Linked DNA regions of Homo sapiens. The protein of the gene in region 5 purifies or fractionates together with the protein of the main gene of each other region. This does not show direct contact. Each region holds a gene or a part of one and is shown on either strand. Other genes may lie near its edges. The genes, in order: ZYG11B, WASF1, IFT56, NCKAP1, AMZ1, ANAPC7 and CYFIP1.

Region 1 (4,425 bases), on a different chromosome or scaffold from region 5:
TTATTTTTAGTAGAGATGGGGTTTTACCATGTTGCCTAGGCTGGTCTCAAACTCCTGCCCTCAAGCAATCCTCCCGCCTCAGCCTCCCAAAGTACTAGAATTACAGGCATGAGCCATAATGCCAGGCTGCATTTACTATGCTTTTTAAAAACTTAATGGCACTCATACTGCACATACAATTTTTAAATTTTTGAAATATTTTATTAGCCTTTTTTTTTTTTTTTTTTTTTTTAAAGACAGTCTCATTCTGTTGCCCAGGCTGGGGTGATCATGGCTCATGCCCAGTGGTGTGATCATGGCTCACTGCAGCTTGCTGTGTTGCCCAGGCTGGAGTCCAATGGCACAATTTTGGCTCACTGCAACCTCTGCCTCCCGGGTTCAAGCAATTCTCCTTCCTCAGTCTCCTGGGTAGCTGGGACTATAGGCACCAGCCACCACACCTGGCTAAATTTTTGTATTTTTGGTAGAGGTGGGGTTTTACCACGCTGGCCAGTCCAGTCTCAAACTCCTGACCTTAAGTGATCTGCCTGCCTCAGCCTCCCAAAGTGCTGGGGTTACAGGTGTGAGCCACCACACCCAGCCACATTAAAACATTTTAATACAAATAGAAGTGAATTCCATTTAAATATAAACAAAATAAGCCCACAAGGTAGGAACCTAAACTATCTGAGTTGGAGACAAAATATTCTAATATTCCCCAAATTACAGTGCATTTTAGAATAAATTATTCAGGGGCTGGGCGTGGTGGCTCACACCTGTAATCCCAGCAGTTTGGGAGGCCGAGGCGAGCAGATAACGAGGTCAGGAGATCGAGACCATCCTGGCTAACGTGGTGAAACCCCGTCTCTACTAAAAATACAAAAAAATTAGCCAGGCGTGGTGGCAGGCGCCTATAGTCCCAGCTACTTGGAAGGCTGAGGCAGGAGAATGGCGTGAAGTGGGAGGCGGAGCTTGCAGTGAGCCGAGATCATGCCACTGCACTCTAGCCTGGACGACAGCAAGACTCCGTCTCAAAAAAAAAATAAAATAAAATAAAATAAATTATTCAGGGCTGTCATTCCATAGAGTAAAACCTAAATAACTCTAATACCTAAAAGTAGTGACAAAAATAAATACTCATATGAAAATGCACTATTATTATTATTATTATTATTTTTTTTTCAGACAGAGTCTCACTCTGTCGCCCAGGCTGAAGTGCAGTGGTGCGATCTCGGCTCACTGTAACCTCCACCTCCCAGTTCAAGTGATTTTCCTGCCTCAGCCTCCCTAGTAGCTGAGAGTACAGATGTGTGCCACAACCCACAGCTAATTTTTTGTATTTTTAGTAGAGATGGGGTTTCACCATGTTAGCCAGGATGGTCTCGATCTCCTGACTTCGTGATCCACCCGCCTTGGCCTCCGAAAGTGCTGGGAATACAGGCGTGAGCCACCATGCCCAGCCAAAAATGCACTATTATTTACTTATTATGTTTTATTTTCTCCTACTGAGCTGTGAAAGGTCCATTCCTTGAGTTATGAGGAAAGGAACCTATAGATTAGAGACTGGGAATATGATGGGATCAACTGTTAAGAAATTTGGGAGTCCTCAGAACCTGTGGGTACAGTAAAAAGAAAACGACTTTAGGGCAGAGACAGTTTAATGTAGCTAAAGAGGCAGTTTTCGATTTATGAGTGAACAACTCTGCTTCTGGGTAATGTAGTAGGAAGGACCGGATAAGCCTCCAGGTGGGAGTTCAGGTGGGTACAAGGCAGTTTTCTCGGTCACATCCCATTCATTGAATTATTCTTCTTTATCTGACACAGAAGAGCTTTTACTGCATTGCCTTTTTGTGGTATGCAGTGAGTTTTCATCAAACAATACAAGAGAAGGAGCTGGGTGCGGTGGCTCATGCCTGTAATCCCAGCACTTTGAGAGGCCAAGGCGGGTGAGTTCGAGACCAGTCTGGCCAAAATTGTGAAACCCAGCCTCTACTAAAAATACAAAAATTAGCTGGGCATGGTGGCGTGTTCCTGTAGTCCCAGTTACTCGGGAGGCTGAGGTAGGAGAAATGCTTGAATCTGGGAGGTGTAGGTTGTGGTGAGCTGAGATCGTGTCACTGCACTCCAGCCTGGGCAACAGAGTGAGACTCCGTCTCCAAAAAAAAAAAAAAAACCCAAGCGAAAATCTCACTAAATGTTACTACTTCTGCTATAAGGATATTAGTAAAAACAACTCTCACATATCCTATATAAGGCCCTTTATAGTATGTCCCCTATTAAGGTCCAATAGAAGAAATTTAATTCATAGTTAACTTCTCATAAAAAATTCTCTCCCCTCCCCATCTCCCCTGACAAGGATATGGAATGTTTCCCTCTTATATGGAGAACCATGTCGCTTTTTACTTGCAGCAGAGCCACAAAAATCCCTATGCATGGCCTACAAGTCTACATTTGACTATTTTCCCTCTATCCTAGAATTTTTTTTTTTCTTTTTGAGACAGAGTCTCACTCTGTCACCCAGGCCAGAGTGCATGGTGCCATCACAGCTCACTGCAGCCTTGCTTTCTGGGCTCAGATGATGCTGCCACCTCAGCCTCCCAAGTAGCTGGGACTACAGGAGCACACCACAACACCTGGCTAATTTCTTTTACATCTTTTATAGAAACTAGGTTTCGCCATGTTGCCCAGGCTGGTCTCAAACTCCCGGGCTCAAGCGATCCACTCACCTCAACTTCAGAAAATGCTGGGATTATAGGGATGAGCCATTATGCCCGGCCCCTATAATTTTTGAAAAATTATTTTTCCTTACTTCTAATTAAAACTAAAAGTAGGCCAGGCACAGTGGCTCACACCTGTAAGCCCAGCACTTTGGGAGGCCGAGGTCGGTGGATCACCTGAGGTCAGGGGTTCAAGATCAGCCCAGCCAAAATGGTGAAACCCTGTCTCTACTAAAAATACGAAAATTAGCCAGGTGTGGTGGTGCAGGCCTATAGTCCCAGCTACTCTGGAGGTTGAGGCAAGAGAATCGCTTGAACCTGGGAGGTGGAGGGTGTGGTGAGCCGAGATCGCACCACTGCACTCCAGCCTGGGTGACAAAGTGAGACTCCATCTCAAAAAAAAAAAAAAAAAAAAAAAAAAAAAAAAAAAAAAAATATATATATATATATATATATATATATATATATATATACACATATATATACACACTTTACTATTAAAGTGGTTCTGTGTATTTCTTGTGTCAAATCATTTGTGGAATGAGTTTATATTAATAAATAATTAGGCCACGCTTGATGGCTGACGCCTGTAATGCCAGCACTTTGGGAGGAAGAGGCAGGCAGATCGTTCGAGCCTAGGAGTTTGACACCAGCCTGGCCAACATGATGAAACCCCATCTCTACAAAAAATACAAAAAAAAGCCAGGTATGGTGACGTGCACTTGTAGTCCTAGCTACAAGCTGAGGCAGGAGGATCATCTGAGCCTGGACGTCAAGGTTGCAGTGAGCTGTTACTATGCCACTGCACTCCAGCTCCAGTGATAGAGACAGACCTTGTCTCTAAATAAATAAATAAGAGTTACATCGTAGCTTTCAAAGAATAATATAGAACCTGATTCAAACACTTTGCTTCTTCAGAAACCATGGGTGCTGGCAGCGACATCTTGAACAACAGAATTTTGGGTGAATGAGAATTGGGCACCGGAATGTACCATAAACAGTGGATCTACTTAAGACCTTTTACTCAACAAATGGACTCACTGTAGTCTCCTAATCTTTAAATTCCTTGAGGTGAGAACAGTGTCTCATTCACCACTATTATTCAGTGTCTAGTTACACCATGCTCATTCTGAAAGAATACCTTAAGTTGGCCGGGCACAGTGGCTTATGCCTGTAATCCCAGCACTTTGGGAGGCTTAGGCGGGCGGATCACCTGAGGTCAGGAGTTTGAGACCAGCCTGGCCAACATGGTGAAACCCCGTCTCTACTAAAAAAAAATAATAATAATACAAAAATTAGCCGGGCATGGTGGCAGGTGCCTGATATCTCAGCTACTCGGGAGGCTGAGGCAGGAGAATCGCTTGAACCCAGGAGGCGGAGGTTCCAGTGAGCCGAGATCGCGCCACTGTACTCCAGCCTGGGGAACAAGAGCGAGACTTCGTCTCAAAAAAAAAAAAAAAAAAAAAAAAAGAATACCTTAAGTTTATAACCTAAGATGGCCTTACATTTTAAGTCAGTGTTCTTAAAAATCACTTTAATACACAATTTAGAAATATCTTTCCTGGGAAATGAGAATTTCACTTAAAGAAAAAAAACACAGTTCTTTTTTTTTGGTACATACGATTCTTGCTGCAGACATGTTGCATGGCCCAAACTGCCCATAGCTGAACTCCTGGTGTTGTGAAACAGCCAAGTAATGGGAAAAATGGATTAAAGGACCTAAAGGTTC
Region 2 (4,425 bases), on a different chromosome or scaffold from region 5:
TATATGCTGCATTCTTACAATAAAATAAACCAGAGAAAATAAAATGTTATTAAAAATCATAAGATAATTAACTATTAAGTGGAAGTGAATCATCATAAAGTCTTCATCCTTGTCATTTTCACCTTGAGTAGGCTGAGGAGGAAGAGGAGGGGTTTGTCCTGCTGTCTCAGGGAGGCAGAGAGGGAAGAAAATCCACCAGTAAGTGGACCCAGGCAGTTCAAATCCATGTTGTTCAAGGGTCAACAGTGCTTTATTCTTCAATGAAAAATAAAGTCTCATTCTGTGTTGGCTGAAATTTAATATTGTTAATTTATTTTTGATTTCCTACAGGTGAACTGGCACAAAGGTTAATCTCAAGATGCCGCTAGTGAAAAGAAACATCGATCCTAGGCACTTGTGCCACACAGCACTGCCTAGAGGCATTAAGAATGAACTGGAATGTGTAACCAATATTTCCTTGGCAAATATAATTAGACAACTAAGTAGCCTAAGTAAGTATATATCAATTAAAAATATACTCACAAACCAGAATGTTATGCTTTAGCGTATTAAGAAGTTGTGCTTCTGATTAATTTGGGAGTATGATTTGGTGAGAAGAGTACAAAATTATCCTGAAAAATATAGTCACATGAGTATAATTATTGAGTTTTACAAGAACCTCTTCTGCATGATGTTTCTTCTGGGAAAGGAAAATACGGACAGAATCTCTAGGAACAGAAACACATGATGAATGAAAATTATTGAGATTGTTTTAAAAATATATAATCTGCGAAAGGACCAGAGTTGTACTTTTCCTTGGTTATTATCACTATTTACTCTGTTTAGAGGCCTCAACTATTTGTGTTTTCAAACACTAGTATCCCTCTCTTTATATATATATTTAATTAGTTTAGGGAAATATTTTTATATTAGCAAAGATCTAAGGTGAGAGGTATGGGGTCATTATTAGTCAGAGGGGTAGGCTAGTCAAGTGGGATGTCTAAGAGACATTAGGATATAAGTCAGGAATCTGATATGCAGCATTGTGTGAAAACAGCAAATGAACTTGGCCTCTGGCAGACAGAAGTCAAGCAGGTTGGCCAGAGAATAAAGGCCAGTGAAAGAGGCAGATTAGGGAGAAGGAGACAGGCAATATGTTCTCATTGCAGATTTACAGAATAGAGCAACTTGGTTAAGGAATTAAACAAATTATTTTCTATTCTAAGTTTATTTAGAAAATTTAAAAAATCTGGTCTGTCTTTTGCATTGAAGGATTAGCTTTTTCATAAGACATTGATATTTCATTTTAAAGGTGAAACAAGGTGTTCTTGGCAGAGATAATATCCACCAAGTGGTCCTAGATTTATCTCATCAGCCATATAAATTCTCCTGATAAGCAGGCTTGGCTTTTCTTTTCTTTTCCTTTTAACTTTTGTCCTTTCTTTTATAATTGAGTACTTAGCACAAGAGGTTGTTAATCTAATTTGTTTCCGGTAAGAAAGTTTAGGCATACCTGTAGCGAGAGCAACATAAAAAGTTACATTTGAATATTCTCTGTGAGAGTACTAAATTTTTGCATTGCCTGTGAAATAGTAAGAATAAATAAAAGGCTATTTTATTTGAATTTTAAGTATATTCCTTGTTCCATTCAGTGGTCATTTTTTTCAGGTTAGTGAATCACTAAAATATTGTATTGTTTACTTGAGGCTAATAAAAAAAGTGTTAGAGTTCCCAGTTTAAATATGATTAACTATATTGTTTAAAGATATTTTGCAGATTTTTTGTGACCTAGCACGGATTGAATCAAGTATAACATGATGTCATATAAAATTTGTTTTATATATGTTATGTACATACATAAGTATATAAGCATGCTAATATTAAAATACATGTTAAGAACATAGAAATGGCATTAGTAATTTTGTATAACATATTTCTTAAAATGAATTGTGGATCCAGTACAGGCATCTTATTTTAGGTATATACCCAATATAGAATTTAGAACTAATATTGTGATTAAGGGTGATAATTTGCAGTACTAACCCATTTGTTACAAAACTTAAAGATGAAAATTTAAGGAATTTTTAAGTCTATATAGTCCATATAAGCAACATCTATCAGCAGGCACATGGTTATGCTGTAGCGAAACTCTGAAAATTATAAATACCTTGTAACAATATAACTAAATTAGGTGTTGGGTGCTTCACATTTAGAATCAGAGACCTGGAAGGCATTGTTTAAGCAGTTTGTAGAGATTCAAAAACAAAGAGAAAACCCATAAAATATTCTAGCAAGGTGTGACAATAGCTTACTGCCCTGAAATTAACTTCTCTGGCAGCTTTCCCACTTGACATAGTTGAGAACCTGGAATTAAATTTAAAAGGCCTCTAGATAGCCAGAATAAATAAACTCATGCACTAAAGACCATGCACATAAAATAACCAATTGATCCCTCTCTCAAAACCTGTTTACTTTTACCTTGATAGTTCAAACAGATTTGATGATGTGGTTTCCAAACAGTTATGCTTCAGAGGATAAAAGGAGGAAGCATGGGAGGAGATACTAGAAGGAGGCATCACTGAACCCAACCAAAAGGAGGTAGTTCACAGGAAAGGACAAAGTGATGTAAGGGAAGATGCAACATAAAAACTGGAAAGAAGCCATTTAATGTAAAGCAAATATCCTTATACATTTCAAGGCTGTTTTCTGGCCTAGGATAATATTTGATTTTCATAATTCATGCCCGTGAGTCCCTAAGAAAAAATTAAATTATGTTTAATTTTATATTCCATTTAAGAAGAGGGAAGCTTAGAATACATTTCACAAGTTTCCATCGAAAATAGTTAAAATAACAATTGATGTATTAGATAATAAAATCTGAATTACTTAGAAAACTTGGCTATCCAAAATGTTTCTAGATAATGGAGATTTTCACTTTGGTGCTATTATTAGTACTGAAAGTGCTTGAGAATATAGCAATGAAAGTAAACTGCAGGGATCCACATGGCTCAGGGCTGGATATCTTCCTGACCTTTTCCTCACAAAAATGTACTTCCTTTTTTTATTTTTTTGAAACAGAGTCTTGCTCTGTCACCCAGGCTGGAGTGCAGTGGTGCGATCTTGGCTCACTACAAACTCCACCTCCCAGGTTCAAGCAATTCTTGTACCTCAGCCACCAAAGCCGCTGGGATTACAGGCGAGTGCCATCATGCCTGGCTAATTTTTGTATTATTTTTAGTAGAAATGGGGTTTTGCCATGTTGGCCAGGCTGGCCTTGAACTTCTGGCCTCAAGTGATCCACCCGCCTCGGCCTCCCAAAGTGCTGGGATTACAGGTGTGAGCCACCATACCCAGCCAGTACATCTGTTTTTTGTGAGATTTTTCCTAGTAGAACATAATTCTGTTTTGTATTAGGTAATTACCACAAACCTATAATTCACTTTATATCAATTTCCTCTTTCTCATTTTATTGCTTTCTTAATGATGCAAGGTTTTTTACTCCTTAGCTGAGCTAGGTCCAGGTTCTTGTCTCACGATGAGGAAGAATTAGGCACACAGATACTCTAAGAGTGAATGGAGTAGAATTTATTAAGTGAAAGGAAAGCTCTCAGCCAAGAGAGGGGTCCTGAAAGCAGGTTCCAGGTTGCCCCGTCACAGTTGAATACAAGGGCATATATATATATATATATATATATATATATATATAGAGAGAGAGAGAGAGAGAGAGAGAGAGAGAGAGAGAGAGGAGAGAGAGGAGAGAGAGGAGAGAGAGAGAGAGAGAGAGAGAGACGCTGATGGGGCTGGGTTCCCTATTTGTATGAGGCACAGATTACTGGTGGCTTCACCACATTTCCCTAGTGCACATGCAGGCCCTTAGTCTGCTGTGGGCATGTTTAAGCAAGCCCCCTGTGCAAGTTCCCTTATCTGCACAAAGCATCTGGTGTAAGCCCTTGTGGGGTGGGTCAGAGGTTCTCTGGGGACCCTTCCCTTACTGTCTGCCTAAAGCAAGCTAGCTAACTCCTTTCATTAACAACCACTGGGATTCTGAATACCTAAGGGATCTCTTCCCCTGGCTTTTCTCTTATGGAATATAGTCAGTTCTTATTGCCAAGATTAGTCTTTTCCATCTCTGTATCTACACCTAGCATTTGTATCCCTACCAATTGTTGAATAAATGAGTAACTTTATACCTGCTTTTTCTTCCATTTGGGATGCTTCCCTTATCTGCCAGAGAAACTGTCTCTGGAAGTATCTTGATCACCAAATAACTTTTGACACCTGAAAGTGAGGTGCTTCTATCTCTGCTGTGTTGCTCTTACCTTATATTAAGAGCTGCCTGTTATTGGGCTCCTCTGTATGAGGTGCACTTCAAGGCTCTTTTCTTGCTTCTTTTAGAGACAGATGTTTTTATTCCTATTTTACAGATAAGGAAATTGATACCAAGGT
Region 3 (4,425 bases), about 140 Mb from region 5:
AAAAAAAAAAAAAATTGGAAAAGAAAAATAATATATATGATATGGTCACAGAGAATGGCAGTGGTTGAGAAGGTAATAAAAATTATTATATCAACATTTTACTTTTTTTTCCATAGAATTGAAATAAAATGAAACTTATCTGCTGGAGCTTCCACTAAATTATTTTTGCTTAAGATTGAGAATTTACAAATATGGTAAATTTTGTTATATAGATACTTGGCTGCTGGAAACTAAATGAGTGTCTCCTAATTCTTTTATTCAAGCCAGGGATAGAACAGAGAAAAGTAACTGTGGGTAATCTTTGATACTTTATATAAAGTATTGAGTTAATGCAAGGAGTTAATTTGAAAATGATCTCATAGCTCCACATTCCTCTTAATCAGTGTTATTCCATGTTTCTAGGAGTATATTCTCAAAGGAGTGGTCAATGCAGCCCTTGGCCAGGAAATGGGTTCAGTGAGTATGAAATCACTGATAATCTATAGGTTGCAAAGTTATAAGTGTATGGAAGAGAACAAAATGACTATCAAAGTGCAAGCAGCAATAGGCTCTCCTGTAGCTCCTTTTATTTCTCCATATCCCCCAATCCAGACTCCACTGAGAAAAGAATGTTATGTTATTTAGAGACAAAAAAAAAAAACAAAAAAAAAACTTGTAACCCTAAAGACTCCTGCTTGTTTAAAAGGGTCCAATTTTTAAATAGCAACTTATTTAATAACTAACTTAAAAATCATTGCGCAACTTCATTCTTATTTGCAGCGACTTTTTTTAAACTTACATATATCTAGCTATAATTTTGGCATCTGTAAAGTAGGGAAAATTGTTTCTCTGGAGAAGTTATTTTTATAAACACCAAAACACTGTCTAAAATTAAGCTCTTATCCATCTTAATACAGCGTTCTTTGTTCTTTTTGGAACAAAATGGGATACAAATAAATCTTTTTATCTCAAGTTCATTCTGCAGTGCCTTGTATAGTAGATAGGCAGCAAATATTTATTAAATAAATGAGTTTAATAAATACTCCTTGTTATATCTACAGCTCCTGTTCCAAGGTCTGATATATGGTAAAAGAGCAATAGGTATTTGTAGAATGATTGAGTTCATTTAATGAAGTTTTAGGATAGAATTTAAGGATTTGATTCTTTTTCTTCTCCTCTGCCTGTCCCTGCACAGGTTTTAATTCAGTTTCGGGTCTAGTTGTTATGTTAATGAGAATTAGTATTGTTTGGGGCAAGATTTAAAACAAAGGTATATTTAAATCCTGACAAATATGTTAGAACCATATAGTATAATAAAATAAAATATTTTTACCTTATTCCTCTATATCAGCTCAGTTTGTTTTTCAGAGGGATCATATGAAAATTGCCCAGCAGTTCTTCCAGTTGGTGGGAGGATCAGCTAGTGAATGTGGTATGTCTGAAATCTGTACTTATGATCTGCTTCATAATTGGAGTGGGGCATATATTGACCGTGAAGTTTGATTCTCTGTCTAGGGATGTATCTATTAGGCTTCACATTATAAAGTGGGAGGTCAGAAATAAGAGAGAATATTGGAATTAGTTCTTCTCAACATCTCAGCGAAAGTGGGATAAGAGAATAAATAGAGTAAATTTCCTGTTTTGTTCCTGAGAGTTTTAAAACTTTGAATCAGTTTTAGATATAAAATGTTATTTTTTACTGAGTTTTCAAGAGCTCTTTTGAGCATTAACTTTTGTCACATTCTGGTAGGTCATTTGCCTTTAAACTTTGCCTATGATATTTTTTTCCATATAAAAATATTAAAACCAGCCAGGCATGCTGGCTTAGGCTTGTAATCCCAGTACTTTGGGAGGCTGAGGCAGGCAGATGGCTTGAGCCCAGGAGTTCAGGACCAGCCTGGGCAACATAGGAAGACCCCATCTCTATAAGTAATAATAAAAAAATCAGCCAGGTATGGTGGCACACACCTATGGCCCCAGCTACTTGAGAGGCTGAGGTGTCAGGACTGCCTGAGCCCAGGAAGTTGAGGCTGCAGTGAGCCATGATTACACCACTGCATTCCAGCCTGGGCAACAGAGTGAGACCGTCATCTCAAATATGTATACACCATACAACCAATACTACAGAAATTCAAAGAATCACCACGGGCTACTATGAGCAATGATATGTCAGTAAATTGGAAAACCTAGAAGAAATGGACAAATTCCTAGACACATACAACCAACCAAGATTGAACCATGAAGAAATCCAAAACCTGAGCAAACCAATAACAAGTAATGAGATCAAAGCCATAATAACAAGATTCCCTGTAAAGAAAAGCCCAGGACCCATTGGCTTCACTGTAGAATTCTACCAAACATTTAAAGAAAAACTAATACCAATCCTACTCAAACTATTCCAAAAAAGAAAGGAGGAGGGAATATTTCCTCTCATTCTTCAAAACCAGTATTGCCCTGATAACAAAACCAAAGGCACATCAAAAAAAGAAAACTAAAGTCCAATATCTCAAATGAAGAGGGATGAAAAAATTGTTAACAAAATATTAGCAAACAGAATTCAACAACACATTAAAAAGATCATTCATCATGACCAACTGAGATTTATCCCAGGAATGCAAGAATGGTCCAACATATGCAAATCAATGGGATACATCATATCAGCAGAATGAAGGGCAAAAACCATATGATCATTTCAATTGATGCTGGAAAAGCATTTGATTAAATTCAACATCCCTTTATGATAAAAATCCCCCCAAAAACTGAGTATAAATGGAACATACCTCAAAACAATGAAATCCATATATGACAGGCCCACAGCTAGTATCATATTGAATGGGGAAAGTGGGAAGCCTTTCCTCTAAGATCTGGAACAAGACAAGGATGCCCACTTTCACCACTGTTATTCAACATAGCACTGGAAGTCCTAGCTAGTAATCAGACAAGAGAAAGAAATAAAGGACATCTGAATTGAAAAGGAAGAAGTTAAATTATCCTTGTTTGCAGATGATATGATCTTATATTTGGAAAAACCTAAAAACTCCACCAAAAAACTATTAGAACTCATAAGCAAATGTGGTAAAATTGCAGGATACAAAACCAGCAAACAAAAATCGTTGGCATTTCTATATGCCAACAGCAAACAATCTGAAAATCAAAAAAGTAATCTCATTTATAATAGCTACCAATAAAATTTAAAAATCTTAGGAATTAACCAAAGTAGTGAAATATTTCTACAATAAAAACTATAAAACATTGATGCAAGAAATTGAAGAGGACACACAAAAAAGGAAAGATATTCCATGTTCATAGATTGGGAGAATCAATGTTGTTAAAATGTTCATACTACCCAAAGCAATCTGCAAATTCAATGCAATCCCTATGAAAATACCAATGATATTCTTCATAAAAATAGAAAAAACAATCCTAAAATTTATACAGAACCACAAAAGACCAGAATAGCCAAAGCTGTTCTGAGCAGAAAGGACAAAACTGGAGGAATCACTGTACCTGACTTCTAATTATACCTCAGAGCTATAGTAACCAAAACAGCATGGTACTGGCATAAACACAGACATATAGACCAATGGAGCACATTAAGAGAACCCAGAAATAATCCATATGTCTACAGTGAACTCATTTTTGACAAAGGTGCCAAGAACCTGTAGAGAAAGGACAGTCTCTTCAATAAATTATGCTGGGAAAACTGGATATCCATATGCAGAAGAATGAAACTAGACTCCCATCTCTTACCCTATACAAAAATCAAATCAAAATGGATTAAAGACTGAAATCTAAGACCTTAAATAAGGAAAATTCTACAAGAAAACATTGGGGAAACTCTCCAGGACATTGGTGTGGGCAAAGACTTCTTTTTATGTTGTTGTTCTTGTTTTTGTTTTCTTTCAAACAAGATAGGCTTTATTTAGATCACCAAAACTAACATTTTACAGAAAGGTAGCCATAACATTACACAGCAAAGTATAGCTGTAAAATCTCAAACAAGAAACACAATGCTTTCTTTAGATCACCAAAAATAATGTTTCATAGAGAGGGAACTGTTAGAAGCAAACGTGTAGCTGCAAATTTTCTTTTGCCGTCAATATCGAGTCCCTCTAAAATACTTTGAGACTACTTTGTGGTTTCCAAGTACAAACTAAACCTTGTTGGACAGAGTTGCTCAGCTTCATCAAAAGAATGAAACCAATTTGCAAAAAAAAAAAAAAAATTACTTAATGCTAACAAATAAAAAAACAATGTGGTTCTAGCTAATTAACTGCAATGTCTATTGAAATAGCCTAACCTATGTATGCTTCCACGAACATTTCACTGTGGACCCAGTTGCTTTTTTCCTGCCATCACAGATGGCCTGCACAGTAGCAAGTGTTGTGTCAGAGCACTATAGGCACCCAGGAAACAATTCCTAACAGAATAACTACAGTATGTGGG
Region 4 (4,425 bases), on a different chromosome or scaffold from region 5:
CTAAGACTGTGCTCAGTTGATTGACAAAAACCAACCCACTAATATTCACAAGCTATCTGGCTGGCCAATATGGCGAAACCCCGTCTCTACTAAAAATACAAAAATTAACCAGGCACAGTGGCACACGCCTGTAGTCCCAGCTACTCGGGAGGCTGAGGCAGGAGAATTGCTTGAACTTGGGAGATGGAGGTTGCAGTGAGCTGAGATTGTGCCACTGCACTCCAGCCTGGACGAAAGAACAAAACTCCGTCTCAAAATAAATAAATAAATAAATTAAATAAAATAAAAAATCTTTCCAAGGTAAACAAGCTGTTCCCCTTGCCTTGATCCTAATCACTAAGTAGATGTTTGGTTAAAAAAAAAACTGCTTCTCTGTGGATTAACAAAGCAGACTGTTTACAAGGAAAACAAGGGAGCTGTACACTGAACTCTCCCTTCCACCCACCAATGTCCCACCTCTAACCCACTTGAGAATAATAAACACCACAAGGCACAATGCCCCTTTGGTCTAAGTTCTAGGGCATTCTGGGTTTTACTGTCAGGATGCCTGACTTACTAAGGAGAACAAAAGACAGTTCATCACCAGACTCTTCTCAAGTCAACTGATAATTTAACACTCAACTTAGTGCCACTTTATATACTGTCATATTCTGTTCTCTAATTCTTTTAGTCATCTCACCAGCTACAGTTCTATCTTTATCTCATTATTACCTAGAGTACTTAACACATTGTTAAGCATATAGTGCAAATACAAACACCACCTGTTAATGACTACAGAAACTTTGAAAACCTTTTGGCAAAATTTTGTTTTATAAATTGCTTCAAGGCTTTGAAGAAAAAAATTGTCAAATAAATAAAAATTTTCATGAATAAATATTAATAAATAAGGATGTAACTTCAGAAAAAGGTTAAAACAATATATATAAAGTTGAAAGGTTTCTGACTTATCAATGCACTATTTCATATACATACATAAAATATATATTCATATATAACAGGAAATTCTAATTAGAATTGAGAATTCAAGAATCTAGAATTCTATTGGCTTATTTAACAGCAACATGTGAATTCAGAAAACATGTAAGGGTTCATCTAGTCCTCAGGTCTTCAAACATTTTACTGTGACCTACTGCATGACACGCATCTTAACACTGCAAGTCAATACACATGCATACATGTAACTGAAACATTTCACGAAGCAATATATATATTTAATGCACACAGTGTACTGGGTTTTTTTTCCTATTTTTTCTTCCTCTTGTCCTTTCTTTCCCTCCCACTTTTCTCTAAACTTTGACTACAACCTAATAAACTGATTTCATGAACCTACTGGGTTGCCACCTGCAAGATGAAATACATTGATTTGCTCCAATATTCTCACTTTGTATATAAGGAAGCTATGACTCAGAGATATTAACTGGTTTGCCTGGTGTTACTAGTTAATACTAATAGGTATGAGAAAAGAATCTGGGTATCTTCAGTAATTTTCAGTTCACTATTCTTTGCATTTCCCAGTTCATTATTCTTGAGACAGAGTCTTGTTCTGTCACCCAGGCTGGAGTGCAGTGGCATGATCTTGGCTCACTGCAAGTGTGTCTCCCGGGTTCACGCCATTATCTTGCCTCAGCCTCCCGAGTAGCTGGGACTACAGGTGCCCACCACCACGCCCAGCTAATTTTTTGTATTTTTAGTAGAGACGGGGTTTCACTGTGTTAGCCAGGATGGTCTCGATCTCCTGACCTCGTGATCTGCCCACCTCGGCCTCCCAAAGTGCTGGGATTATAGGCGTGAGCCACCACGCCCGGCCCGGTTCATTATTCTTAACACTAATCCAGTTCTACTAATGCTTTTCCTTATAAAACACTGTATAATTAAATAACAAACTCATTACTGAGTCAACAAACAAAAACAGTCAATATTCTTTCTTACTTGGTAAAGCGTATTTCCAGATGAGAAGTCAAATATTCTCGTGGGGTAAAGGTATGTTCCCATACCACCATGTTTGGTACATAATTTATAGAGAAGCATAACTCAGAAAGTGCAGTGTGCAATTTATCAAGGCTGAAAAAAATTAATAAACAGTTAAAATGTTCACATGTCATCACAGGCAATACAAAATTAATTTTATAAATATATCAACCTTATTTGGAGATAATGCTTAGAGAATTCGACTTTTTATTCTCCTAAACTGAGAAAGTTCAAAATCTTTAAGGTTATAACTAACACATAAGAGCAATATTCTAAAGATGGCGTCATTTGTTTCTACCTTTAGGTAGTAATGAATATACTGACTTAATATACAAAGGTAGAGCTTATTCTGCACTCATAAAGATAATCACGCCCAATTCCTGAAGTACTTTCTGTTATGAGAGAAGGAAAGTTGTCTATAAAAGGGCAATGGCTTGCTCAATTTAGCAAGAAAGTAGGAACTATACTTTAAACAAAAAATATTTACCGAATTATTACCCACCTACACCTCCCCTCCAAACAATGAAGCAAGCAAAGATCCCTGAATGCTACCTGGTCTGTTATTTCTGTTTTATAATAATGACATTGGGTATGTTCTAATATATCAAAAACATGCCAAAATAAAGTCTCCACTATCTAACTTTAAATAAATTAAAAATTACAGATTGCTTATAATGTAACACACAAAATTTTTTAAACATATAATTGGCCTTCAGTACTTAGTATAAAAAGACAAATATCAACTATTACATATATTTTCTTCTAAAGGCCAAAATCTGTATTTTGAGATGAAATAAGCAACTAACAGGTTAATTAAGCTCAGAAATATTTTTTAAAATGGCTGGAAAATGAAGAATATACAATTATTAGCATTTCCTCAGTACTAATGTCAATAGAAAAAAATGAAATAAATATTTTACCTGGAGCAAAAAGGTATAATATAAGTGGATACTTACTTGGTCACAACCAGCCTGTTTTTCCTCATGCTCTCAACACCTGGTTTCTCCCTTTCAGGTTCCCCTTTCTTACCAGTCTGCTTTTTTGATTTCTTATTCACTGCTTGACTGATAGTTTTGGCACAATGCTTGGGTAGCAACTAAATTTAGAAAAGAATGAAATCTTACATTACACCAATTACTCTGAAAGCATACTAACTATTCAAGCAAACAGTAGCTGAATCCAGGCTGTGTTGCAAATATCACAACAATATTAAAAGACAGAAATATAAGTGAGATACAGAGCTTACTTAGCTAGCTTGGGTAATGCACATAGCTTGGTGAAAACAGAAACGGGTAGATCTTGGGTAAATCTTGTGTGAAGAAACACGTCATAGAGTAAATTCATAGACGCTTATTTAAATTACTATTAAAAAGACAAGTAAAAACATACCAGGCAAGCAAGGAATGAAAAAGAATATTTCACTGGAAGGATTAAATGGCCTTTGGAAAAAAACTGTGTAAAGATATGATGGTTCAGAGCTGTAGTTAGAACTACTATGTGGTGGAGCATAACGTGTAAGGTAAAGTACAGAGGTTTCAACTATTAGGAAGGGCCTTGAATGCCAAGCTAGAGGTTGGATTGTAAACTGCAGGCAAAAAGACAGCGACAATTTTTTAAAATAGCCACAGCATGAGGAGACATTTTCTTTTCTTTTCTTTTCTTTTGAGAAGGAGTTTCACTCTTGTTGCCCAGGCTGGAATGCAATGGCACAATCTCAGCTCACTGCAACCTCTGCCTCCTGGGTTCTCCTGCCTCAGCCTCCTGAGCTGCTGGGACTACAGTCGACTGCCACCACACCCAGCTAATTTTATTTGTATATTTTTAGTAGAGATGGGGTTTCGCCATGTTGGCCAGGCTGGTCTCGAACTCCTGACCTCAGGAGATCCACCTGCCTCGGCCTCCCAAAGTGCTGGGATTACAAGCGTGAGCCACCATGCCTGGCCATGAAGAGGTAATTTTCTAAGGATAACTCTGATATTGGCAGAAGAAAACACTGAAAAAGGAAAATTGTAACAGAGCTGCTAGAAATAGTTCAGACAAGGCATGAAAAAGGGATATGAAATAGGCAAGTGTAATAAAAAAATTTTAATGGGCAGATCTGAGACAGACTTCTGAGATAAAATTGAAAGGATTCAGTAACTTAGATGTGTGAGAGAAGCAGGAATCAAGTATGACACAGAGGTTTCTACCTAACACATTGTTAAGACCAATAATTAAAACAAAAAAACCACACAGGTACAAATCAGAAATAATTGATTTCACTTGACAGGTAACAAAGCAGGCAAATGAGAAATAAGAAATAACATTTTAGGTAGAAGGAGAGCTTCACTGTACATTACAGTAGCCACATGTGAAATGTGCCCAGTCCAAATTCAGCTGTGTTATAAGATAAACACCAGATTTCAAAGATTTAGTATAATAAAAACTATACAATATTTCATTCATATGATTACATGC
Region 5 (4,425 bases):
AGGCTGGGCAACAAGAGCGAAACTCCATCTCAAAAAAAAAAAAAATTGGGGTTGATAGCATTTATTAATTTTGAGAATGAAAATGTAAGATGTAAGCATTATAGAAAAGCTGAGTAACAATTTATTTTGTATATCAAAGTCGTCCATCAGTCATTGCAGTATAAAATGTTCCAGGTGTATTTCCACTTGGACTGGATTTTTAAAAATAACTGTGCCATACAATCGAGCGGTGATCAAAGCTCATGTAATTAGGGCTAAGTCGTTCCCGTTGGGAGAGGCTATTGTGGGACTTGTGCGTCGGGCCAAGGGATGCTCTGGGCTCTGCTGTTGGAGCAGAGGAGGGAGCTCTGCCAGGCGCGCGGGCCTTTGCCCTCTTTAGGCATTGCTCCTGCTTGGGGGTCCGTGACAGACATCAGGTTATGCCATCAAGAGCCCCACGTGAAACAACTGCCTCCAAGTGGTGCAGGCGGGAGAGGCGGCCGGAGGATGGCAGGAATAAAGAGACACCCCCCTTCCGACAGGGGCCACCTGCCGTTCTGTCGGAGGAGTTGGGTTGGCAGCCGACAAAGCTGCTGCCCGCATCCTGCCCATCCAGTAAAGGCCTCGAGCCCTCACAAGGGGGCGCCCAAGAGGACGGCCACCACCCACCCAGAAGGGCACAGGTAGAATGTGGTAGAAGTTTGATCTCACTTCAGATGGGGGGGAAAAAAAAAAAAAAAAGTCGCCTGTTCTTGCAGCTTCCCTCCCTCTTTCCTTCCTGCTCATACATTTGGAATAAATGGCCGGAGCTCTCCTGTACCCCTGCCTGTGTTAAGCGACCCTGAGAAAAGCGTGTTCTCTGCCTCTTCCAACCCACTCCGTTTCCCGTGGTTTCTGTGACTCCCCTGTTCCCAGAGGCCTACCCCAGGTGGGCAGAGCACAGGGAGAGGAAGTCCCTGAGAGCCGGACGCAGCTCGGCCCTGGCCTGCCCGCTTCTCCCTGACCACAAGACCAAGCCCGGCTGCACAAGCCCTGTCCTGTTAGAAGGGACAGTGGAGCTCCTACGTGAGAAAGTGTTGGAAGAAATGGTGAAGAGTCCACTGCCTTCTGCTGCTGAAAGCCTGACCGAGAGGGGCGTCGGCTTCAGACTGGACCCCACACTGCCCCCGGGAGCCGTCAGCCGCGCTCATCACCTTCGTCCACGTGCCAGGTGAGTGGGCGCCCGCGGCTGCCACCAGCGTCCAAGAGTCAGGGCTGAACAAAACACGTCCCCATTCATTCCCGCTGGTCACAGACCACTGAAGGAGGCCCACGAGACAGACTCACAAAGCGCGGTGAGGGCCCTTGAACGGGAGATGGTCTTGGACTCGAGAAAGACGTGTTGGCCTTTGCTGAGAAGGGGCGGTTCAGTCATGCTGTATCCAGAAAACCAGGCACACTGTGGCGGGCAGAGCACCCTGCCTGAGAGAGAAAATGGACACTGGGCCCACAGTCAGGAGAGCCAGAGCTCTCGGCATCAGAGGAGCCCCAGGGTGGAGCCACGTGACTCCATGCCGGGCTCAGTTTCCATGTGACAGAAGTGCGTTCATTAAAAAGCCCAGGGAGCAGGCATCGAGGGAGGCCTCAGTGGTGGAATCTGGTAGGTGTCGTCTCTGGTTAATCTTGCGAGAGCTCGGGCCCCTCTCAGAGAGGGCAGGAGGTTGGACGGGCCTGGCTGCCGCGGACCCTCTGAGGGCCATTGTGGAGCCGCCGGGGGAGGCAGGGGCCGCCGTGTTTGCTCGACTCCGGTGACTATTTGGATTTGCCTCATCGTCACGGGAACACTGCAGCGGGGAAGAGTTGGACTGAACGCGTGGTGACCCCAGGACGCTTCTTGGAAATTGCTTTTTAAAATAAACCCCTGACATCAGCCTGTTTTCATTTGCCTCCCTACCCAAGAAGCTGAGTTCAAAAATAAACCTCCATTCTTCCGGGTTCTCATTCATCAAGGTGCTGCTGTAGGATGTCAGAAAAGGGAAGGCTCGGCCGGCCGTCTCCACCCGCGATCTGCATCTGTTTTTAACAGCGTTCGCAGGCCAGGGCTCTTTACAGTCAAGCCGGAAGTGTTTCCTAGATTACCCTGCGGTGTTTATCTTTGACAGCCTCGTGTTCCAAGAGCCATAAATTTGCTGCTGCTTTAGGTTTCCTTGAAACTGGGCACCTCTGTGTGCAGTTGCCCCACAGGGATCACAGCTAGATTTCAGCTCTGGAGCAGCCTGCGTGCGGGGTGAGCTCCAGAGAGCCCTTGGGTACAGGGCGAGCCGGTTCCCGGGGCCTCTCCCAGGACGGCAGCCAGGCCCCCGTGAGTCTCTCACTCTTACTGGAGCTGCAAAGCCAGCTTAGAGGACGGGCCGTCGTTTGCTTCCAGCACACAGGCAGGCAGACCCAGTTCAGGTCTATGAGCCCCGTCGCGAAGCCCTGATTCTCTCCGTCTTCACGGGGATAAAAATATTCCTGTGCAGGCCTCGCCCTCCTTTTATAAACAAAACAAATCAGTGAAGCCCCAGCAATCACGGGGGTGTTTTCGTTGGCACCTCACCTAAGAGTGCCGGCCACCCACCCAGGCCTCTCCTCAGAGTCCGAAGGAGCTGCACGGGCCAGAAAGCCTCCTGGTTATCAGAACCGAGGGGCGTGGGTGCCGGTGTGTGGGGGCTGCTCAGGGATCAGGGTGCAGGCCTCCCGCGTCCGTGCGCCTTCTTACTCTCTTCCTGCTCAGACCGCTCCAGCTTGCTTTTAGAAAGCTGCACAACAGCGGGAGAACTCGGGGTTCAAGCAAGAACAGACTGCGCCTCAACTTCCGCTCTGCCGTTTCTGAGGCTCCAGCCCTTCCCAGTCCCATCTCGACAGCCACAGCCATATGGTGGGGATGCAGCCATCTGCCTTACAGGTCATTTCGAGACTCGATGATGATGTAAAAAAATTCCGTTACATAGGAAGGACCCCTTAAGCGGTGGAGTTGACTGACCCACTAGGGAAGACTTGCCTGTCCAGGTGGGCCTTGGGCAGGGCAGCCGGTCCCTCTCTCCGAGGCCTGGCCGTCCCTGCCTGGTGGGTCTGCAGAGCAGCTCCCTTGGCACTGTATGGAGACCCTCTGCGTGTAGGTGTGTCCCTGGAATGTTCTAGCCTCCCCCTTTGAACTTGGTGGGATCTAAATTTGGACTCCCAGCTTTATCACTCGTGCTTGACTAAGCCATTTTATGTTTAAGGCTTTTGGAGATTTCGTTCATCGGGGAAAGGTCTGAAGCAAATATTAACAGGTCGGCATCCCTCCCTCCTCACCCATGCTCTGGAAACGGGTGGTGGCAGAGCTCCACTCACTGTCCCGTGCCCTCAGGGTTCACACCATGGACAGGAGTCAGGATGCTGCTTCTCCCCTCTCCCCACTCTGACAATGAGTTTGGGCTTTTTGGGGAGGAAGAGAGGGAAAAGAATGAGATTTCGGAAGAGGACTGCGGGGCTGCCTGAAGAGAGATTTGCCTCAGAGGGGACACTGCTTCTCACCCCTTCATCATAGCATGGCTGTGACGTGGGAGTGTGTATTCTAGCCACTTCAGAAGGCATGTGTTAGCTTCCCCAGACTCATCGCACACACAGCAATACAGATAACATCTGTCATGACCTGAAACTATTTTTAGCTCCATGAGGCCCCGCTGACTTGGCTTACCAAGATGGGTGAGGCTCTCCGAAGAGAGGTCATCGTCAAGCTGGAAGACCCATCCTTGTGAATGCAGGGGCTTCTGACAGATGAGACGAGAAAGCAATTCAGTGGACTTTGCACGTGTTTAAAAACTGAAAGAACCGTGGCCCTGTGTGTCTTGGAAACCATCATCTCTAAATTTAATCTCAGTTCAACTTCTGCAGCACTTAAGTTTAGAAAGATTCGTGAGCTGTGACCTTCCTCGAGAAGGCAGCCCTCATTCTCTCTCCTCTGCCTTGCGTCTTTCCTGGTGACTGTCCCAAGTCACTCTTCACCACAGCACAGACAGAACCTGGGGCTAACACGGGGGAGAGGAGGGAAACCAATTTCTCTTCCTCAAAGTTGCATTTCAAAACAGTCCTTCTAACAGCTGTCTTAAAAAATTTCACTGACATCTGCAAGTTGGTAAACGCTGCGGATAAAAGGAGTTTTTTTTAGTGGTTTGCTCCTTCCCACTTCAAAACGCTTTTTTGGGACACACATCACAGCTGAGGGTCAAAGGACACGGGTACAGAGAGCGCCGAGGCTTTGGTCATAACCCCAGTGGGCTCCCACCCTCAGCATGAGCCAGGCATTCTATTTTTATCACCTCTGTTTAATCTCGCATCACTCCAGCGGTTAACCTTTTGCAGAAGATGAAGGAAATCGGAAAACAGGTCAGGCCACCTCGCAGGTGCACCAGCCAAATCCCCACAGTGAACGCCGAGTGG
Region 6 (4,425 bases), on a different chromosome or scaffold from region 5:
TAAAAGTTCTGGCCGGGCGCAGTGGCTCATGCCTGTAATCCCAGCACTTTGGGAGGCCGAGGTGGGTGGATTACGAGGTCAGGAGATTGAGACCATCCCGGCTAACACAGTGAAACCCCGTCTCTACTAAAAAATACAAAAAATTAGCTGGGCGTGGTGGCGGGCGCCTGTAGTCCCAGCTACTCAGGAGGCTGAGGAAGGAGAATGACGTGAACCCGGAAGGCAGAGCTTGCAGTGAGCCGAGATCGTGCCACTGCACTCCAGACTGGGAGACAGAGCGAGACTCCGTCTCAAAAAACAACAAAAAAAACCCACAAAAACAAAAAAAAAGCCAGAAAATCTAAAAGTTCCTAAGAATGTAGAAGTTATAGGCAAGTGATAAAAGACCTTCCTAATAGTACACAGATAAACACAATATTCCAATTTAAAATTAGATTTTTTTTTTTGAGACGGAGTTTCACGCTTGTCACCCAGGCTAGAGTGCGATGGCACGATCTCAGCTCACTGCAACCTCTGCCTCCTGGGTTCAAGTGATTCTCCTGCCTCAGCCTCCTGAGTAGCTGGGATTACAGGCACCCGCCACCACGCCCAGCTAATTTTTTTTTTGTATTTTAAGTAGAGATGGTGTTTCACCATGTTGGCCAGGCTGGTCTTGAACTCCTGACCTCAGGTGATCCAACCACCTCGGCCTCCCAAAGTGCTGGGATTACAGGCGTGAGCCACCGTGTCTGGCAAAATTAGTAGATTTTAAACACAACAGTATTTGCTAGATCATTAACCTAAGGAAGCAGTCAATGTGAGGGCACAAAAGAAAAAAGGTCAACCCCCAATCTCTTCGATTTAACTGTGGCTTGGTATGCCAGATATTTATAGAAAGAGTGGCTCTAAAGATAAAGAACATCTGTTCCAATTATAGACCTACATTATATAAAACAATCTAATATAGCATTGATTCACACTAATTCAAACAATGGAATAATGAAATACTAAAAATAAAACTATTTTTTACTTGGCCTCAGATTTTCCATATTAGGCTACTATTTTGAAAATGCAAAGAAAAATACTTAAAAGGAAAACTCCAGGATTGATGTCAATACTTGTAAAGAATAAAAAGTTAAATTTAAGATCCTTTCTTGACTGCTGGTTATATTAACAAACTATGACTGATGGACTATCTTTCTCAACAAATATCAAAATTTCCTTTAAGCTACTTGACTGTCACTTTAAAAGAATGAGTTTTGAGTAATACCTAATGAAAAAGTCAATTATTGGCCGGGCGCAGTGGTTCACACCTCTAATCCTAGCACTTTGGGAGGCCGAGGTGGGTGGATCACGAGGTCAGGAGATCGAGACCAGCCTGGCCAACATGGTGAAACCCCGTCTCTACTAGAATACAAAAAATTAGGCAGGTGCAGCGGTACGCGCCTGTAGTACCAGCTACTCAGGAGGCTGAGACAGGAGAATCGCTTGAACCCAGGAGGTGGAGGTTGCAGTGAGCTGAGATCATGCCATTGCACTCCAGCCTGGGCAACAGAGAGAGACTCCATCTCAAACAAACAAACAAAAAAAGTCAACTATTTTAAAAATAGATACTCACTTAAAAACATCATAAAGCCACATTCCACCAGTTATAAACACAAGCAGTCATCATTTTCTAAAAACTGAGTAAGAAATTCTATGTTGGTATGTTTACTCTTAAAAGGTGAAGATTTACCAAGATTTAATAATCTAACACTGGAATTTTCCTTTAAAATGTGAGGGAATATGTGGCGATGTTTACCATATATTAACAGACATTCATTTAGACACATTTTGACTCACTTCCTTGTCCTTTACATAGACTGAGAAGCCAGTTAACTCCCTAACAGACAAGAAAGAAAAACTGTAAATGTTATAGGTTTATGTTTGAGGCACACATCTTTGCTCCTAGCTGTAAGAGCACTACAGAATGAAGGATATGTACTGCTGACAAATGCAGACTCATACAGGTGCTCTAAGAATGATGGCAATGAAAATCAAGCAGTGGATGCTATAAAGCTGAGATGCTTTAACATTACTATTTTCAAAAAAAAGTCCTACAAATATCCACAGGTCATTATGAAGGAGATTATGGTATATTTCTAATAAAGTAAGGAATAGTATCCTTCAAAGTTTATAATTAAAATGGCTTCTTGGCCGGGCGTGGTGGCTCATGCCTGTAATCCCAGCACTTTGGGAGGCCAAGGCAGGCGGATCACCTAAGGTCAGATCGAGACCATCCTGGCCAACATGGTGAAACCCCGTCTCCACTAAAATGCAAAAAAGTAGCTGGGCGTGGTGGCACACGCCTGTAGTCCCAGCTACTCGGGAGGCTGAGGTAGGGGAATCGCTTGAACCCGGGAGGTGGAGGTTGCAGTGAGCCAAGATTGTGCCACTGCACTCCAGCCTGGCAACACAGCAAGACTCCACCTCACAAAAAAAAAAAAAAAAAAAAAAAAGGCTTCTTACAAAAGGAAGATACCTTGAGCATTGCAGCAGACATTCTTCATCTGTGCAACAAGATTATTCTTGGAGTAAGAGAAGACTTTCATAGGTTACCAGAACAGGATTTAGTATACAGCATCCAGGCTTATGATGAGAGAGGTTAATTCATAATAAACTTTCAAGTGTTTTTAATAGCAGCCACCATCATACTGAAGAAATAGCTTCAAAAACTCAGAAAATAGTAAATAATACCTTAATATGAGGAGGTGCTTAAACATGTTCTCATCAAGTTTGGTTACTTTTAAAGTTCAGCAAGACTTGGATGAAGCAGCACTAACTAAAATACACCAGGCCCCTACTGCTTAGATTTCGTATCTTTTAAAGGCAGGAGGATGCACCTGTCATTTTACCTATAAAATTCCTTATTGTTAAGCACAAGTTGCACAAAACAGTTTTTCAATAAAATGAGCAAGGCAGGAGACATGACAGTATTATTAGAATATTAAATACTGATATATTCTCACATTCATGAATTTATTTGGTATTTATAAAAGTAACAGAAAAAATACTATTCTTCTCATTTTATAAATAAAAAAGTAGTAAAGCTCACAAATTGGTAACTTGCCCAAGTTCACACTGCACACAGCTTGTATGCACCTAAACTCAAACTAGACACCAGATCTTTTTTTGTTTGTTTTTTTGTTTTTTTTGAGATGGAGTTTCACTCTTGTTGCCCAGGCTGGAGTGCAATGGCACCACGTCGGCTCACCGCAACCTCTGCCTCCTGGGTTCAAGCGATTCTCCTGCCTCAGCCTCCAGAGTAGCTGAGATTACAGGCATGCGCCACCACACCCGGCTAATTTTATATTTTTAGTAGAGACGGGGTTTCTCCATGTTGGTCAAGCTGGTCTCGAACTCCCAACCTCAGATGATTCACCCACCTCGGCCTCCCAAAGTGCTGGGATTACAGGCATGAGCCACCATGCCCAGCCGACACCAGATCTTTTGATTTTAGTTAAAGGTGTTTTCTTCACTATAATATGCTGCCAAATCAAACACAAAGACATATTCTACACATAAATAAGGATAAAAGAATCTTACAGTATTAATTTTCAAAACAAAGGAATAAAACCACCCCCATTACCAAATGTGTACACCTATGGAAGGCAAAAAATGAAGTTCTAAAAAAGTATTTTTGCCACCTGGAAGTGTTTTGCAAATAAATCATTATTTCCTATAATAAGAAATATCAAAGTCTTCTCTGCCTATGGAGTAGCCATTCTTTATTCCTTTATTTTATTAATAAACTCACTTTCACTTAAAAACAAAAACAAACACAAGGAGGCCAGGTGCAGTGGCTCCTGCCTGTAATCCCAGCAATTTGGGAGGCTAAGGGGGGAGGACAACTTGAGCCCAGAAGTTTGGGACCAACCTGGGCAAATGGTGGAGACCATCTCTATTTAAAAAAAAGAAAAAAAAAATTGGCCGGGCATGGTGGCTCCCACCTGTAACCCCAGCACTCTGTGAGGCCGAGGTGGGTGGATCACCTGAAGTCGGGAGTTCAAGACCAGCCTGACCAACATGGAGAAACCCAGTCTCTACTAAAATTACAAAATTAGTTGGGCATGGTGGCGCATGCCTGTAATCCCAGCTATTTGGGAGACTGAGGCAGGAGAACTGCTTGAACCCGGGAGGCAGAGGTTGCAGTGAGCTGAGATTGCACCATTGCACTCCAGCCTGGGCACCAAGAGCGAAACTCCCTCTCAAAAAAAAAAAAAAAAAAAAAATAGCCGGACATGGTGGCTCACGCCTGTAATCCTAGCACTTTGGGAGGCCGTGGCAGGCGAATCACAAAGTCAGGAGTTCGAGACCAGCCTGGCCAACATGGTGAAACACCATCTCTACTAAAAATACAAAAAAAAAATTAGCTGGGCGTGGTGGCGGGTGCCTGTAATCCCAGCT
Region 7 (4,425 bases), on a different chromosome or scaffold from region 5:
CTTGTGCCCACATTTTTGGGATGGGAGTTGAAATGGAGTCAGACTCCTTTTTAGTGCACATGACACATCTGACAATCAAGGCACGTCTCCTCACGCTCCCAACTCACTTGGGTGGGAAACAGAGGAGCAGCAGAAACCACAGGCGCCACTTTCTCTGCCTGAGCAGGCAGCGAGGACCTCATTTAACCCGGGCCTCACCAGCCCCACCCGCTCACAGCTCAGGGTGGGTCCCCCCAGGGAGAGGGTGCAGGCGGGGCTCAAGGGACGAGAACCTGAGTGCTGGAGGGTCCCACGGCGCGGCGTGGTACTTTTATGTCGAAGCCGCTCTTGGGGTCCTTCTCGCCCCGCAAGGCTGGGTCATTGAAGGGCTCATGCCCCGTCTCCCAGTCACACACGGTCTTCCTGATGGCCTGCAGGACACTGAACACCCCACCAAGTGATCAGCAAGGCCCAGAGGCCGAGACCTCCAGCCTCACAATCACACCATCTCCTCACCCAACTACAAGGCTCTCAGAACAGCCCCCATGAAAATACAAATTACTCTGGGGGCCATGGAGGGATGTGGTAATGGACCAGCTCAACAGGAAAGTTAAAAAGGAGTCTGCCTTCTGGAGAGTATTACTACCCCCAGAAGACTGCCCTGAGCTCCAGTTCGCATCTGTTAGCCCAGGGCAGCAGTGAGGTGGCTCTGAGTCATGCTGTGGGCAGGGAGAGGGCAGAACACAGCCTCCGCACGGAGCAGAGCTGGGCCCCGCCTGCCCGCAGCTGGCTGTCCCCAGTAACCAACAGGAATGTGAAGTCACCCACATGACCAGAGCCTGGCCATGTCTCTCGACTGGTTTGGAACACAGCCTCATCACCAACAGGGCTCCACCGTGCAGAGACCCCCATAAGGCACCATGCATGAACCACAGGCACCGCGAGCCTGGGATAAATGCACCTTGTCCCGGGGTCCTCAGACTCCCTAGACACTCGGCAGCTGACTTACTGTCCATTGTTTGGGTTAATAATTGGACCCATGCATTACTTTTAGAGGTAATTCACCAAGAGGGCATCTGAAGGTTGAAGATAAATATATTGAAATCATTTTTGAGAATTTAACGCTCCTGTTGTTTGAATCCAAGTTCATCCGAGGACGTGTGGGCACAGCGGGCACAGGGCGTGGGGAAGGCTGACCTCTGGATGACGTTCTTCTTCTTCTTGATGGCCTGCCGCAGCGGCTCCCTAAGGGTCACCTGGGAGAAGTCCTGCAGTGCGGCATAGACGGTGTGCCGGATGGCGTGGTTGAACACGCTCTCCATCCTGCCCATCAGCACCTGCAGGCCTTTGATCATGGCGATCACCTGCGGGGGACACAGCAACAGGGACGGCCCTTCTTAGGGATGGCACCAAGCCTCCTCTGCCTGGCACATGCCGGGGGCTGCTCCTCCTCGCCCACAGCACCTTACGCCCTCCCGCGTTCGTGCCCTGCAGCTGCCCTGCCCCAAAACGTCTTCTCCAAAGCCATAGTCAATGGAACTGTGCCCGCATCTGACTCCCCATCAGACCATGAGCACCTGGAGGACAGGGATGCATCTGACTCGAAACACACATGCATCCACCCCAGCACACCCTCCTGTGATGGAATTCAAATAGGAAAGAAGAAAAAGACTCAGGAAAGCAGGCATGATATTACTAGAAAAAGAAGTTACAAGAGGTTGTAGTCCAAATCCCATATTGTTCACAACAAAGGCGCAGTGAACTACCATTCACAGAAAAAGCCTGGAAGACTCTGATGGAACATAATTACATGACAAAGAGCTTCCAAAGGAATTCCTGGGACAGAAAAATGGTGCCAGGGCTCATTATTTCCCTGTTTCCAGACAGTAATTTTGTCATGACAGTGTGCTTTATTACTTTCTGAATAAACAATTGAAGGTCACAAACCAAGTATGACCTTTACAATTGCATGAGCTTTCTTACGGCTTTTGCCGTTTATAAATATTTCTACAGCCAACTTCATGATAGCTATGTGAGGCCTAGAAATCTCTCTGAAAGCAGCAAGTGAGGCAGAGCAAGACACACTTACCCCAAGTCCACCCTGCCGTGTGGATGTCTGACATATAAGACACCAAAGTGGAACATTTAATAGCACCAGTGAAACATAATTCACTTCTTTTTATCTTTTAACTAGAACGCTGTACCTAAGACTAATACATTTGGGAAAATCTTAACAACCCTTCTTTGGCCAGGCACAGTGGCTCACACCCATAATCCTGGCACTTTGGGAGGCTGAGGCGGGAGAATCACTTGAGACCAGAGTTCAAGATCAGCCCGAACAAAATGGCCAGACCCCATCTCTACAAAAAATTTAAAAATTAGCCAGGTGTGGTGGCATGAGCCTATAGTCCCAGCTACTCGGGAGGCTAAGCCAGGAGGATCACTTGAGCCTAGGAGTTCGAGGCTGCAGTGAGCCATGACTATGCCACTGCTCTCCAGCCTGGGTGACAGAGCGAGACCCTGTCTCAAAACAAAACAAAACAAAAACCCTACTTCAACATCTGAAAATGGTCTTCAGTCCACAGTAATAAAAAAAAACAAAAAACAAACAAACAAAAAAAACCTTTTGAAATTAAGTATTTGACAGATTCAAAATTAAGGCAGCTTTTTTTTTTTTTTTTTTTTTTTGAGACAGGGTCTCACTCTGTTGCCCAGACTGGAGTGCAGTGGCATGATCATAGCTCACTGCAGCCTTGAACTCCCAGGGTCAATCGATCCTCCTGCCTCAGCCTCCTGGGTAACTAGTTCTATAAGCATGCACTACCATGCTTGGCTAGGCATCTTCCTACTTTTATTAAATCTGTTGGTTTGAAGTTCACTTAGCAAGAACACAAATGTGTTTCCCCAAGGCTTCACACAGTCTCCCTCTATCACTTTCTGGTTTTATTCACACCTTTTGAGTTCCTCATTATGGCTTTATAAACAGCCTGATTCATGGGTAAATGAAGACGTGTCTGACAAGTACTTGAAACATGGCTTATATGATTTTGGTGCTTTTCTTTTTCATGAAATTTTCAGGTGGAAAAGTTGACAGTCTGCTTTTAATTCATCCTTCTATAACGTAAAGAATTTCCAAATAGACTGCTTTCATGTAAGACTCATGGTCTATATGCAATTAAAATAATGAAAATTTTAGAAAGGAAAAAGTCTGGAAGAAAACGCACCCAGCTGCTCAGCGCCATCTCTGTGATGGCGCCGCAGGCACTGTGCCTTCCTAATGCCATGCTTGTGTTTTCAGCATGCTTACTTTGGAAAACTGATGATTTTATATTGTTTTTCCAATCAACAAAAAAGAAAAGTTCTATTTAAAAAACCAAACGAGGAAAAACCCATTTAAGTGAACATAACAATCCTACATATTCACACTTACAGGAAGAAGGAAAAGGCAAGTTAACAGCAAACTGAGAGCTTTAGATGCACGCATTAGAAAACTAAAAAGGATAAAAATCATAATACTTATCAAACATTCATCACTAATTTATAGAAAACAGCAAAATAAACCCCCCCAAAATCGAAGAAAAATAACTAAAAGCACCCGGGCGCAGTGGCTCATGCCTGTAATCCCAGTATTTTGGGAGGCCGAGGCAGGCGGATCACAAGGTCAGGAGTTCGAGACCAGCCTGGCCAATATGGTGAAACCCCGTCTCTACTAAAAATACAAAAATTAGCCTGGTGTGGTGGTGCACACCTGTAGTCCCAGCTACTTGGGAGGCTAAGGCAGGAGAACTGCTTGAAACTGGGAGGTGGAGGTTGCAGTGAGCTGAGATGGCGTCACTACACTCCAGCCTAGGTGACACAGCGAGACTCTGTCTCAAAAATAAATAAATAAATAAATAAATAAATAAATAAATGTAACAATGAAACAGAAAACAAGTGTATAATCAAGGGTGATCAACAAAGACAAAGCTGTTCAGTAAATAAACAGTAAAACTGACAAATGCTTAGCAAGAATAACAAAGAAAAAAAAGACAGAGAAGCAGGCCAGGCACAGTAGCTCACGCCTGTAATCCCAGCACTTTGGGAGGTCAAGGAGGGTGGATCACTTGAGGTCAGGAGTTCAAGACCAGCCAGGCCAACATTGGTGAAACCCTGTATCTACTAAAAATACAAAAATTGGCCAGAAGTAGCTTGAACCCGGGAGGTGAAGGTTGCAGTAAGCTGAGATTGTGCCACTGCACTCTAGCCTGGGCAACACGCGAGACTCTGTCTCAAAAAAAAAAAAAAAAAAAAAGAAGCACGAGTTACCAGCATTAAGAATGAAAAAGGGGACATTAGCAGTTTATAGACAGATTAAGAGATTATGAAAAAATACTGTCATAGGATAGACAGAGGTCAATGGGATAGGATTAAGAGTCCAGAAGTTAACTTACAATTGATTTTCAACAG

Evidence for each region.
Region 1: the proteins of AMZ1 (region 5) and ZYG11B purify together in Homo sapiens (affinity purification with mass spectrometry; one large-scale study listed by BioGRID and IntAct). This does not show direct contact.
Region 2: the proteins of AMZ1 (region 5) and WASF1 purify together in Homo sapiens (affinity purification with mass spectrometry; 2 studies listed by BioGRID and IntAct, with this or other methods). This does not show direct contact.
Region 3: the proteins of AMZ1 (region 5) and IFT56 purify together in Homo sapiens (affinity purification with mass spectrometry; one large-scale study listed by BioGRID and IntAct). This does not show direct contact.
Region 4: the proteins of AMZ1 (region 5) and NCKAP1 purify together in Homo sapiens (affinity purification with mass spectrometry; 2 studies listed by BioGRID and IntAct, with this or other methods). This does not show direct contact.
Region 6: the proteins of AMZ1 (region 5) and ANAPC7 purify together in Homo sapiens (affinity purification with mass spectrometry, with the first as the bait; one large-scale study listed by BioGRID). This does not show direct contact.
Region 7: the proteins of AMZ1 (region 5) and CYFIP1 purify together in Homo sapiens (affinity purification with mass spectrometry; 2 studies listed by BioGRID and IntAct, with this or other methods). This does not show direct contact.

What each region holds. Positions count from the first base shown.
Region 1 is NC_000001.11:52,816,522-52,820,946, reverse strand, and holds part of ZYG11B (protein zyg-11 homolog B), read right to left. Parts: intron 4,416-4,425; coding exon 4,318-4,415; intron 1-4,317. UniProt on the Homo sapiens protein: Serves as substrate adapter subunit in the E3 ubiquitin ligase complex ZYG11B-CUL2-Elongin BC. Acts to target substrates bearing N-terminal degrons for proteasomal degradation with the first four residues of substrates being the key recognition elements.
Region 2 is NC_000006.12:110,123,535-110,127,959, reverse strand, and holds part of WASF1 (actin-binding protein WASF1), read left to right. Parts: intron 1-330; 5' UTR 331-358; coding exon 359-491; intron 492-4,425.
Region 3 is NC_000007.14:139,167,942-139,172,366, forward strand, and holds part of IFT56 (intraflagellar transport protein 56), read left to right. Parts: intron 1-402; coding exon 403-456; intron 457-1,347; coding exon 1,348-1,411; intron 1,412-4,425. UniProt on the Homo sapiens protein: Component of the intraflagellar transport (IFT) complex B required for transport of proteins in the motile cilium.
Region 4 is NC_000002.12:182,954,533-182,958,957, forward strand, and holds part of NCKAP1 (nck-associated protein 1), read right to left. Parts: intron 3,065-4,425; coding exon 2,925-3,064; intron 2,062-2,924; coding exon 1,930-2,061; intron 1-1,929. UniProt on the Homo sapiens protein: Part of the WAVE complex that regulates lamellipodia formation. The WAVE complex regulates actin filament reorganization via its interaction with the Arp2/3 complex. Actin remodeling activity is regulated by RAC1.
Region 5 is NC_000007.14:2,715,304-2,719,728, reverse strand, and holds the end of AMZ1 (archaemetzincin-1), read right to left. Parts: 3' UTR 46-4,425; downstream 1-45. UniProt on the Homo sapiens protein: Probable zinc metalloprotease.
Region 6 is NC_000012.12:110,389,640-110,394,064, forward strand, and holds part of ANAPC7 (anaphase-promoting complex subunit 7), read right to left. Parts: intron 1-4,425. UniProt on the Homo sapiens protein: Component of the anaphase promoting complex/cyclosome (APC/C), a cell cycle-regulated E3 ubiquitin ligase that controls progression through mitosis and the G1 phase of the cell cycle.
Region 7 is NC_000015.10:22,917,516-22,921,940, forward strand, and holds part of CYFIP1 (cytoplasmic FMR1-interacting protein 1), read right to left. Parts: intron 1,344-4,425; coding exon 1,177-1,343; intron 421-1,176; coding exon 273-420; intron 1-272. UniProt on the Homo sapiens protein: Component of the CYFIP1-EIF4E-FMR1 complex which binds to the mRNA cap and mediates translational repression. In the CYFIP1-EIF4E-FMR1 complex this subunit is an adapter between EIF4E and FMR1.